2 separate regions of the Homo sapiens genome follow, and region 2 is linked to region 1. The links come from fine-mapping of genetic effects on gene expression. A gene starts in region 1. The other region holds a variant in brackets. All regions are shown on one strand. Distances are between the middles of the regions.

Region 1 (5,359 bases):
GGGGCCTGTATCCAGCTGGGCGTCCTGCTGATGTCTCTGGTCCTGGCGGGCCAGACCGGCTGGATGCAGGTTGGCTCCCCACTGCTCTACTGCCAGGCTCCCGCCCAGGCCCCTTCCTCAAGCAGCAAGGGTAGGCAGGCCGCAGGCTGAGGAGGGGGAGGCCCGGGCCTGGACTCACGAGAGGCTCCTGTACCAACAGACTACAGCTGTTCCTGAGCATGGCCTGGGCACACACCCAATCCCACAGGAGCCTGTGCTCTGTGGGAGGCGGGGAAAGCCTTCTCCACTCACAGCTGTGAGGCAGTGAGACAGACCCTCAGCTCAGGGACTACGTCACCAGGGGAAGGATGTCTGCCCTGGGAATGGGACACTCTGGATCATTTCCTCCACCATCACTCAGGAAGTCACCCTGTCACCATGGGCTTCATAGGGTGCCAGGCACACACCATGCTACACCCTGGCCCAAAGGCACCAGAGGACTGGGAAACGGGTCACGGCACAGAAGCTGACAAGAGGTGACACTGCATGAGGACCACTTGGCCAGCTGAGACCCAGCCAGGAGCCCACGCCCTGGCCCTGCCTGTCACTCCTCCACTGGGAGACCAGAGACTGTTCATGCCTCCAGCCTGACCCTTGGCTTCCGGGTCTGAGAAGGAAAGGACTGGAATGGAGCATTTCTCAGGTGCCTGCCAGTCCTGAACCTCCAAACTCATAAGGCAAGGCAAACGCTGAGGGCAAGTTCAGCACTGCAGCAAAGGGGTGGCTGGACTAGCCCAGCACCGCCAGGGGCCACTTTGCCCCAAGTTTGATCATGCCTGTCACCAGTACTCCTTACCTACACAGCTGTTCTCACGAGGGTCCAGGCTAGGGGGTGGAGCCCTCTGGGAAGACAGCTACTCACAGTAACCACAAACCCCATCTTCCCCAGGTGGGGCTGGCTGGCGCCCATGCACACCCCAGGTGGGAAGAGGAAGAAACTGATGCATTACCGGGTACACATCCACTCTAGGATCTCCAAGCGGTACTCTGAGGGGCTGCACAGCAGTTCCTGAATTGTCTTTGGCTCTGTGATATACAGACCCTCGAGGAAGGGGCAGTTTAGGTCCTAAGCAAGGAAAAGGAAAGCAACATTCACTGAAAGTCCCAGTGTACATCATTTCATTTTATTTATTTATTTATTTTTGAGACGGAGTCTCACTCTGTCGCCCAGCCTGGATGGAGTGCAGTGGCATGATCTCGGCTCACTGCAGCCTCCACCTCCTGGGTTCCAGCAATTCTCCTGCCTCAGCTCCCAGGGTAGCTGGGGGATTACAGGCATGCGCCACCACGCCCGGACAATTTTTGTATTTTTAATAGAGACGGAGTTTCACCATGTTGGCCAGGCTGGTGTCAAACTCCTGACCTCAGGTATCTGCCCACCTCAGCCTCCCAAAGTGGTGGGATTACAGGCGTGGGCCGCCGCGCCCAGTCCTCAGTGTACATCTGCAAGCTCCCAGGACCCTTTCCTTTACCCGCGTCCTGCCATCTTGCCAAGAGTTCAAGTCCCCCCATTCTTAACCCCACATCTCCCGCGGCATGCAGACCCCACCTCTTTCAAGTACTCCCACTCTGGGCTCTTGTGGCAGCAGGACCTAGGAGCAACGCCTGAGACTAAGACTTAAGAGAGAGTCCTAGGTTTCGGGACTGAGGGAAAGGGGAGAGGGAAAGGGAGAGGGACCACTGAGCCAGTCGCGGACAGGATGGGGGAGTGTCTGGGGGGAGGAGCGAGCGGGCCGAGGGGACCTGGGACAGCTCCCTAACCTCGTGGGCCAGCTTTCCTCACTGCTGCAGTGAGGGCTCTGTCCTGTGGGGCTGTAGAGGGCTTCTGGAGGCTATCACCCCTGGCATCTGACACCAACTGACACCAAGCCCTAGTCTCGCTGACTTGACAGAGTGGCACGAGGCTCTGCCCATCTGTCCCCCCAGACCCCGCAAGATCCCTAAGGCCAGGCCTGGGTCCTCTGTGTCTGCACTTGCTCCGAGCGCCCAGCGCGGGTACTGCAGTTCCACAGGCGGTGCTGGCCCCAACTACCAGGCACGGGCCGTGGAGACAGCAAGAACGAAGGCCTGGGGCACACCAAAGGGCAAAGATGAATGATCCACAAGCACCCCCTGCTGCAAGGGAACAGGGCGCAGCCGGAACCGGCGACGGTGGCCGCGTGGCGCCGCGGACTTCCGCAGCAAGCCCTCCCGGGCCTCGGGCGGGGCCCTCCCCGGTCCCCCGCCCTGGAGTGGCTTTCTGGGCCAACAGCACCTTCAGCTTCCCGAACACCTCCACAGCCGCCCTGGACACGCTGCTGTCGCCCTCGTCCTCTGAGTAGTCGTCGCCGCCACGGCCGCAGCCAGCGTCCTGCCCCGCCATGTTTCGCGCTCCGAGCCGCGCCCCGCCCATGCCCTGGCTTCACTGGCCGGCAAGACCGCCAATCAACCTCCAGCGTTCTTCCCGCCCACCCGCCTGCGCCCACCCCCTTCCCGACCGACCCTTCCCATTGGGCGACATCTCCGCCTGCGCGGGCCCCGGGCTCCCACCCCCCGCCCCGGCACCACCCAGAGGCAGGACCACAGTGAAGCGGGCAGGGCGGACACAGGGAAGGGGGCGGGGCGGACACAGGGAAGGGGGCGGGGCGGACACCGGGAAGGAGGCGGGGCGGACACCGGGAAAGGGGCGGGGCGGACACCGGGAAGGGGCGGGGCGAACGGGCCAAGCTGGCTCTGAGTCGCAGGCCTTGCTGGCGTCGCCCCTGCTGCCGGCCGGGAATGATGATGCGTTGAAGCGAGGCTCTTCCAGGAGGGGGCGCTCCTGCCTTGGTCGGGTTCTCCTGGGCCACCACCACTAAGGGGCACCCTGGTTCCCAGGAGGACCAAGGGGAGCCTTGGGTGCAGAATGGAACTCGGACTGAAGCGTTCCTCTCCCAGCGCGGGGCTCCGTCTTCTCTTCACCATGCTCACGCTGTAGTTAGAAGGAAATTTCTTGTCACTCACCAGCTGTGTGCCTTTGAACCAGTTACCTAACCTCTCTGTGCCTCTTTGCCCTCACCTAATGGAGCTAATGAGAGCACCTTACCCACTGGGTTGCTAATGAGGATGGCAGGCGGTAATAATTCCTGTGGAATCCCTAGAACAGTGCCCGGCGCATGCGAAGAACCACGTAAATGCTCACTATTGTAATACATGCTGGGCCCTGCTCCCCTCACGGCTCCTGGGGCTACCTGTGGCTCCTTCCTATCCTGTCTACTTAACAAATTTTTCTACATCCCTCAGGACCCTCAAACTCAATGCGTCTGCAATGAAATATGTCAGTCGCTCCTCCCCCAGACCTGCAAAGCCCCCAGTTCACTGAATGCCCCTTACCCAGGGACCTGCTGATTGGGCAAGGCAGGAAGGAGTTGGAGGGTGGCTTGTGCCCAGTAGCCAGGAGACAGCAGCAGGCAGCTGCCACTGTGCCCTCCTCTGTGCCCTACCCTGCCATCTCCTGGAGGGTGGGATCAGGGGGCAAGTCTATAGTCAGGGAGACCCAGGGACCTGCTGGGAGGCAACTGCAGTCATCCAAGTGACAGGAGGGGACTTCACTCCGTCCTGGGAGGAGGGAGCGGGCAGGAGTCCGGGGGTCACAGGAAGGGACCTCAGCCTGGGAGGCCCCGACACAGGCCCAGCGAAGTGCCTCAAGGTTGCTCTCTACCCTTCCACGTGGCTGCTGCCTCAGGCCCTTCTGGTAGCTGAGGGCTGTCAAAGGCTTTGGGATTTTTTTTTAAGCGTTTTTTTCCCTCTTTTTTGTTTTTGTTTTTCTTTCTTTCTTTTTAGAAAATTTCATCTCAATCACAGCCCCAGCTCAGACATTCAAATTCTTGTGGGTTTTTCTGTGGATCTTTCCTAGGACTGGGGAATTTGGCGGAAGAAACCACGGCAGTGTGGCAGCCTCCCCCAACCCTCCCCATATTCTCTGCTCCTGAGGACCGGGAAGAAACCAGCTCCTGTGTACTCTGGAAGAAAATCTCCCTCCTCCACCCAGCTCCACGGAGCCAGTGTGCTCAACAGGCCTCCCCAACCTCAGCAGTTCAGTCTATGGGACCCTGAGGAACTGGCAGGGCCTTGAGAGGCGAAGATCATCTTGAGAGGTTATGGAGGCCATCCCCCTCATGGAGAACCTGTTGGCCAGCCCTCAGCCCCTGGAGATGGTCGCTGAAGACCCAGCAGCAGGCTGCAGCTTCCCTGCCCACGCCACCCCACCACCCACCACCCACCACCCACCACCTGCCACCCACCACCCGCCCCCAGAATCATAGCACCTCCCAGGCATCTTCCTCCGGAAAAGCTGGAGGCTGGGGAGGGAACAGAGAGGCTGCTGGGCCTCTCAGGAAGGGGGAAAGAAGGGGCCCAGAGGTAGAAGCTTCTGGAAATGTGGACTCAAGCTCAGTCCAAGAAAGCACTCCTCCCAGAAATCACTGTCTGAACACCAGCTGGCTGCCAGGAGAGGAAGGGAGCTCCCGGTCCTAGAAGGTCTACAAGCCCAGGGAGGTGGGTGGGCGGGGATGTGGAGGGTTGAGTCCTACCATGGGGGAGGGAGGGGGCACATCTCTAAGGGACATTCCAACCCAGAGACCCCAGGTTCTCTGAGGGAGGCCTGGGTGGGTCAGGAGCCAAAAATGTGGCTGAAGGACCCATTGACCTGGAGGAGGGATGTTGGGGGGAAGCTGTGGATGTGGCGGGGAAGCTGGGGGGTCCTGGTCATGGAGGAAAGTTGGCCATGCGTCCCAGCAGGGCCTCAGCCGTGTCAGTGCTTGGAAAACACGTTGGAAAATGAGACTGGTTCACGGCACTGGCCCCGCTGTGCCAGAGATGGGCTGGCGGGTGCTGGTGGCATTCGAGACCTCTCAGTTTGTGTGGTGGGCCCAGAGATATATGGCCAAACAGTTGAGCTCACCAAGTGGGCAGCCTCCCTGACCTGTGGAGGGTATTGAAAAAGTCCTCAGAGCATCCGGGCCCTGCTCTTCATATGACCTTAAGGGCAGACCCCACGGTGCAGCGGGAATCAACCAGGGACCCCCCAATCCCCCAAAGACACCGCGAATCAAAGGAAGCTGAAGTCCAAGGGCTTTCCTCTCTGCAGAGGCGGGTCTGCTTCTGGCAGGGGCTGGAGTTAGACCTGAGGGGGAGCCACCCCACCTGGGGGCGCCTAGGCCCTAGAATGCTGTCAGAGCTAAAGCCCTAGAAGGCCTTGCTCCACGGGGCCACTTCGACTCCCGGCCCTGAACCAGGGAACCTGGGGAGGAGCCTTTGAGGGACTGAAGTGTCCTCCATCACCCCCCACCCCTGGCCACTA
Region 2 (5,359 bases), 23 kb after region 1:
CCCTTCTTCCGTGGCCCTCTCCCTCCCTCAGACATGTCCTTGTCCCATCCTTCCGTCCCATGGCTGCCGCCCCACCTGCTACCTTCCAGCAGCCGTCCTGGGCGCTGTCCCAGGCAGGCTGGGGTGGCAGCTGCCTGATGAGGCCTAGACCAGAGTTAGGCTCAGAGCAGGGAGACCACAGTGTGGCCTGGGGCCCTGTGCAGGGGCAACTGCCAGGGCAGGACAGCTTTCCCTGCAGGGAAGCCTGAGCAGGCTGCCCAGGGCTGCCCTCCCCACGCAGCTGAGGGGGTTGGGCTCCTTGTCAGGTGGAGAGAGCTGAGCTCTCGGCTCCATCCGGCAGGAGAAGGGGTCTCCCGGGCTGGGATGCAAGGCAAGGCTGGTGCCAGCAGGACCTTCTGGCCCTCTACAGCCTTTTGGGGGAAGCATCCCAGCTAGGGCCTAGGGGGCCTGTGCAGTGGCATCCCAGGGTCACATACAGGCCGTGCTGGAAGGGGCCGGGTTCTGCTTCCCCCACCTCCTGCTCCCTGTCTGCCGCGGGTTCCTGGGGAGCTAAGACAGCTGTGTGTCCGCCTCCTCCCCAGGATCCCTGAGGGCCTCAGGAAATGCCTGCTCTTCCTTCCTGCCTTGCGCCCCCCGTGCCTGCCTTCCCCCTGCTTCCCCCTGCCTCCTCCCAGCCCTGAGAGGCCAGAAGGGCAGAAGGCTGCCCGCCCGCCAGCTCTGCTCGCTAGCAAGGAAGCACTGTTCCTAGAGCACTTCAGCTGGGATCAAAGTACCTTCTGCGCTGCAGAGAGAGCCCAGGCCTGAGGAGGGGGGAGTGGGAGGGGGAGCAGAAGGGGGAGGCCCTAGGACTGAGGTACTGCCTGTCTGGTCTGGGAGTGGCCCCCAAATTAGAGGGCCAGGCCGAGTGACTCAGTGGGCCCTAGCCAGGCCGAGTGACTCGGTGGGCCCCGGGCCGGGCGTGCAGTTATGGCTTATTGCAGACTGCAAACCACAGATACAAAAACCTTCCAGGTACAAGGACCGTATTTATATGAGTATTGCCCCCAGAAGCAGCCCCCAACTTCAGGTAAGAGCTGCAAGGTGCATGCATAATGTGTCTCCCCCAAGCAGGGTGTCGCCTCATCGCCACTTCCAAGCCCCCATCCAGGAACATGCCTGGCTGAGACCTGAGGGTGAGGTCGGTGCAGGGCCGGACTGCAGCGCCGCCTGGCTCCCCTGTGTCTCCCCACACCCCCCCGCACGTGTGCTCTTCCTTCCACCGGCAACTTCCCTCTTCCCTACTGGTCTGCTCCAGGTCACCTCCTCCAGGTAGCCCTCCCGAGCCTCTGGCACTGTGCATGGCCCTGCGCCCCCACGGTATTCAGAGCTGTTTCACCCCCACTGGGACTCCTGGAGGCTGAGGCCCTGAGTGACAGCTCCTGGGTTCTCAGTCCCCAAGCAGTGCAGGAAGGTACTGGGTACCAGCACCTCGGGCAGCAGGCATGCCTTGAGTGGGTTTCTCCTTTTTTCTGAAACGGCTTTACTGAGAGTGGCTGTGCTTACCACACGATTTGCGCATTGAGCACGTACAAGGCAAGGGCTTTTATATGGTCTATTCACAGAACTGTGCAACCATCACTCAGTCGATTGTAGAACATTTTCATCACCTCAAAAAGAAAACCCATACCTTTAGGTACCACCCCTCTAGCACCCACTGCCCACAAATCCGCTTTCTGTCCCCACAGATGAGCCTAGTGTGGACATTTCAAATGAATGGAACCAGAGGCTCTGCGGCCTTTTGCGACTGGCTGCTGTCACTGAGCGGAATGTTTCCAAATGCTTCTCTCTCCACCCAGACTGCTAGTCAGGCTTCGCTGCCTGTCCCGCTCTCTACCGACATATTTCTCCACGAATGAGTTGGCAGTGGGGGAGGGAAAGAGGGTGGGACAGAGATGAGACCAGGCTGCCAAGAGTCGGACGCTGAGGCTGGGCAAAAGGTAAAACACACAAACCTGCCGAAAGACAAGCCATCTCCTTTGTCTGGAAAGGGCATATGTGGTCTCCAATCTCCTCATTCCAACCATGAAATCAAGAGAGAACCAGGGTTACCAGCCTGGCCCCTGGTTTCCCACGTCTCTCTTCTCCCTGGCCCAGTCTAGAAGCTTCTTGCAGGCAGGTACCACAGTTTGGTCAAGGTGCCATGCGTCCCAGGTCCTAGCCAGGCCCTGGGCTGCCGCTGGTGAACAGGAAGGGGGTCTGTGCCCTGCCATGCCCCCAGGTAGAGCTCCCCTGGGAGCATCCTCCCTGGCCTGGGACCTCCCAGACCCCACCCCCCGGTTGAGTGATGGCACTGCCAGGGGTTGAAGACCCTCAGCCCTCGACGTTGTCCTCTCTCCATTGGATGCCGCCTCTCTCTAGCCACCCCTCTCTCCCTCTCTGCCCCTTCGAGCTTTTTCTCTCAATATGCAATTTTCTCTTTTGGTCTTCCGCACTCTTGGCCCCCAGTTCTATTGCAGATCTGTTTCTCACTCCATCTAAACTCTTACCCCTGTGTCTCAGGAGCTGCTCTTGCTGAGGGAAGAAGGGGACACTACGGGACAGGGGGGCAGTGTCGTACTAAGGACCTGGGCTCTAGCCACTGGAGGAACTGGACTCATTTGGGCCCTCAGGAAGCGGCTGAGTCTTGGTGGGGTAACCCGGTTAGCCCCCGTAAGTGACCAGCACAGGGCTGAGCCCAGAGGAAGTGGCCACCCACAGAGTGGTTCTCATGTCCGAGGGGACCTGCAGGGATTGAGCAAGAAGACTGACTCGCTGGATCCTTCGTCTCTGAATCAGTTCAGGGCAGGCAAGCTGGGGAGCCCCCTGCCCCGTCCTGCCACCACCAGCCGGATCGGGCCCTCTTTTTAAGGGAAGAAAGTCTG[G/A]AGTGGAAGGGAGGGCACAGGGCGCCAGGAGCCTACATGAAGTCCTTCCAGAAATCCACAACAGCTACCTCTCTGATCCTGGAGAAACCACCTCCTTGCTTAGGCCCAAGCAGGTTCCTGGCAGGCTCAGGACCAAATTCCAGGGGCCACTCATGGGCCTAGCAGCCCAAGGCCGCCTCCCCCTCGTCTTTCTTCCATCTCTCTTTCCTCTGCCTGGCGAGATGCCAGCCAGCACCTCAGTGTCCCCATCTGGGCAGTGGAAAGTTTGACTCTCTGGGTCCTTGTTTGAGTGAGTGCGAGTGTGTCCGTTCCTTTGCTGTCTGCCCCAGGCGGGGGAGGGGGGGGGAGGTGGTGGGGGCGAGGGGGCGGGGGCTCAGCTAGTCCAGCCGTCTACAAGAAAATTGCTCCCTTTGAAGCTGCCAGGGGGGCCGGGAAGCCTGCCCCCTCCTGCTCGCCCGCCCTCTCCGCCCCACCAGCCCCCTCCCTCCTTTCCTCCCTCCCCGCCCTCTCCCCGCTGTCCCCTCCCCGTCGGCCCGCCTGCCCAGCCTTTAGCCTCCCGCCCGCCGCCTCTGTCTCCCTCTCTCCACAAACTGCCCAGGAGTGAGTAGCTGCTTTCGGTCCGCCGGACACACCGGACAGATAGACGTGCGGACGGCCCACCACCCCAGCCCGCCAACTAGTCAGCCTGCGCCTGGCGCCTCCCCTCTCCAGGTAGGGCTGGCTTCAAGCTGCCTCCTCAGCAACCCAGAGATGCCCCTGGCTCTGCTGCCTCCGCTGTCCCAAGCCCTGGTCCTGCTGTCCCCAGTGCCGCGAGGGTGTCCACAGATTTCCCCGGTGCTCTCTGTAGGCTGCTGATCCACGCCCCTTCATCGCCACCCTGCGGCCCCCTTGGTCCCTGTCAGGCTTCTGCCTCGTCTCGCCGCCCTCCAGGCACCTTTCCCTCACCCCTTCCTCTCCCTCTCCCTTCTGACCTTGCTCTGCTTCATCCACCTCTTGTCTCTCTGCCTCCCGCTCGGGGTCCGTCTTCTTGGCTACCACCCTAGAGCGTGGCTGGGTGACTGGTACCCCAGCTTTGCCAATGGCCCTGTTTCATCATTGCAAGTCCCAGGCGCATGCTCCACTCCCTCAGCCTCGCTCTGCCCAGGCGCCTCCTTGCTCCAGGGCTTGGCGCCTGGCCCGGGTTGGGTCGGATCGGGGAGGACCGCCCAGCGCCCACCGAGCTCAGCACCCAGGAGCAGTCCTCCGCTGCACTGCCTGAGGCCAGTCCTTGGCATGGGCTGAAAGACTTAGTTTCCCAGGCACACCCCAGGCACCCTGCCCAGATGTTCCTCGCTCGCTCACCCCCAGGTTAATGCTCTGCCTCTACATCCTCTGTGAGAAGTCTGGGTCCTGGGAGCCCTGGCTGCAAGGGCCCTGACTGGGGGTGCCTGGGTGGCTCAGCCCTGTCTGTTTCCAGGACCCCCTTGGACTGGGACTCAGAATGGGTGTGGAGGGGAAGGAGAGAAAATCAGGCAACTGTGCCATGCTCCCCAGGGCGGACCTGGCTTGGGGTCCCAGAGGGGCCTGCCAAGGGACCCAGGAGAGGGAGCGAGAGAGTGCCCTGGAAGGCCCACGGAGGGGAGCGCCCCCTCACTGCTCCATGGGCGGGGCTGGGTGCCTGAGCGCCTGCTGAGCAGAGCAGGGGGCCCAGGGATCTGCAGGGCACAGGGTACATCAGTCTCCAGTGGTCTGTCTTGGTGGGCAGGCCTCTCTCCTGCTGTCCTGGCTGCCAGACTGCTCAGGTCCCATCCTCAGGGGGTCCTGTTTCTGGGCCCTCGCCCCTCCCTGGCCTGCCAGCTCTCTGCCCTATAGCAACTAATTGGAACTGAGACAAGCTGGAGATGCTCAGCCCCCCTGCCCCCGTGCCAGAAAGGCTCCCGGGGACCAGCGCCCAGGGGTGCGGGTGAGCACCTCCTGGTGACACCCAGCCGCCGGTGCCAGCCGCACCCCAGGAGAGCTGGTGTATGAGCATGGATGTCTTGGTGCGGAGCATGCCCATGTATGGCCACTGTGGGCCAGCATGGTGAGCCTTTGAGGGCAAGCCCGTGTGGGTATATTGAAAGGAAGATGCAGGGCTGCCTCCAAGCCACCAGGGCTGGGCGGTGGGAGCAGGTTGCGAGCCAGGGAGCAGAGAGGGCTCCCATGGCAAGCTGGCCAGCTGTGGGTGGCAGCCCTGGCCTCCCTGGCCCACCTTCAAGCCCCAAGGACCCGTACGGCAGTGGGCATTAACCCTACCAACGCATAGATGGGGAGTCTGGGAAAGGAAGGGGGGTGTTTCCAAGGCAAGAATGAGTTTCCTGTCTTTAGCAACATTCCAGAGTCACTCAAACAAAGCTATAGCGTGTCCCTTCCAGTGACAGCGCCAAGTCCCCAGAGGAGGGGTTTGTAATGAGTTCACACTTGACAGTTAGCACTCAGAG

Alleles and levels. Alleles are on the strand shown, and positions count from the first base shown. SD is a standard deviation of normalised expression in the study named.
In carriers of allele A in region 2, the expression in cerebral cortex of the gene that starts at base 2,420 in region 1 tends to be lower than with G alone (small effect, 0.35 SD a copy in GTEx).

What was found. PIP is the estimated chance that this variant, and not a neighbour inherited with it, causes the effect.
Region 2: its variant is the best candidate, but not a certain one, in a credible set for the expression of HAUS7 in cerebral cortex (GTEx, PIP 0.61).

What each region holds. Positions count from the first base shown.
Region 1 is chrX:153,468,157-153,473,515 of GRCh38, forward strand. It overlaps HAUS7 (HAUS augmin like complex subunit 7), which reads right to left and starts at 2,420. Exons shown (of 10, transcript NM_001385482.1): 1 at 2,294-2,420; 2 at 990-1,105. The coding sequence starts at 2,401. RefSeq lists enhancers at 1,712-1,891, 2,042-2,141, 2,655-2,949 and a silencer at 2,472-2,781.
Region 2 is chrX:153,491,503-153,496,861 of GRCh38, forward strand. It overlaps BGN (biglycan), which reads left to right and starts at 3,478. Exons shown (of 8, transcript NM_001711.6): 1 at 3,478-3,611. It also overlaps a transcript of HAUS7 not described here. RefSeq lists an enhancer at 1-420. The variant G/A (reference allele first, on the strand shown) is at 2,901.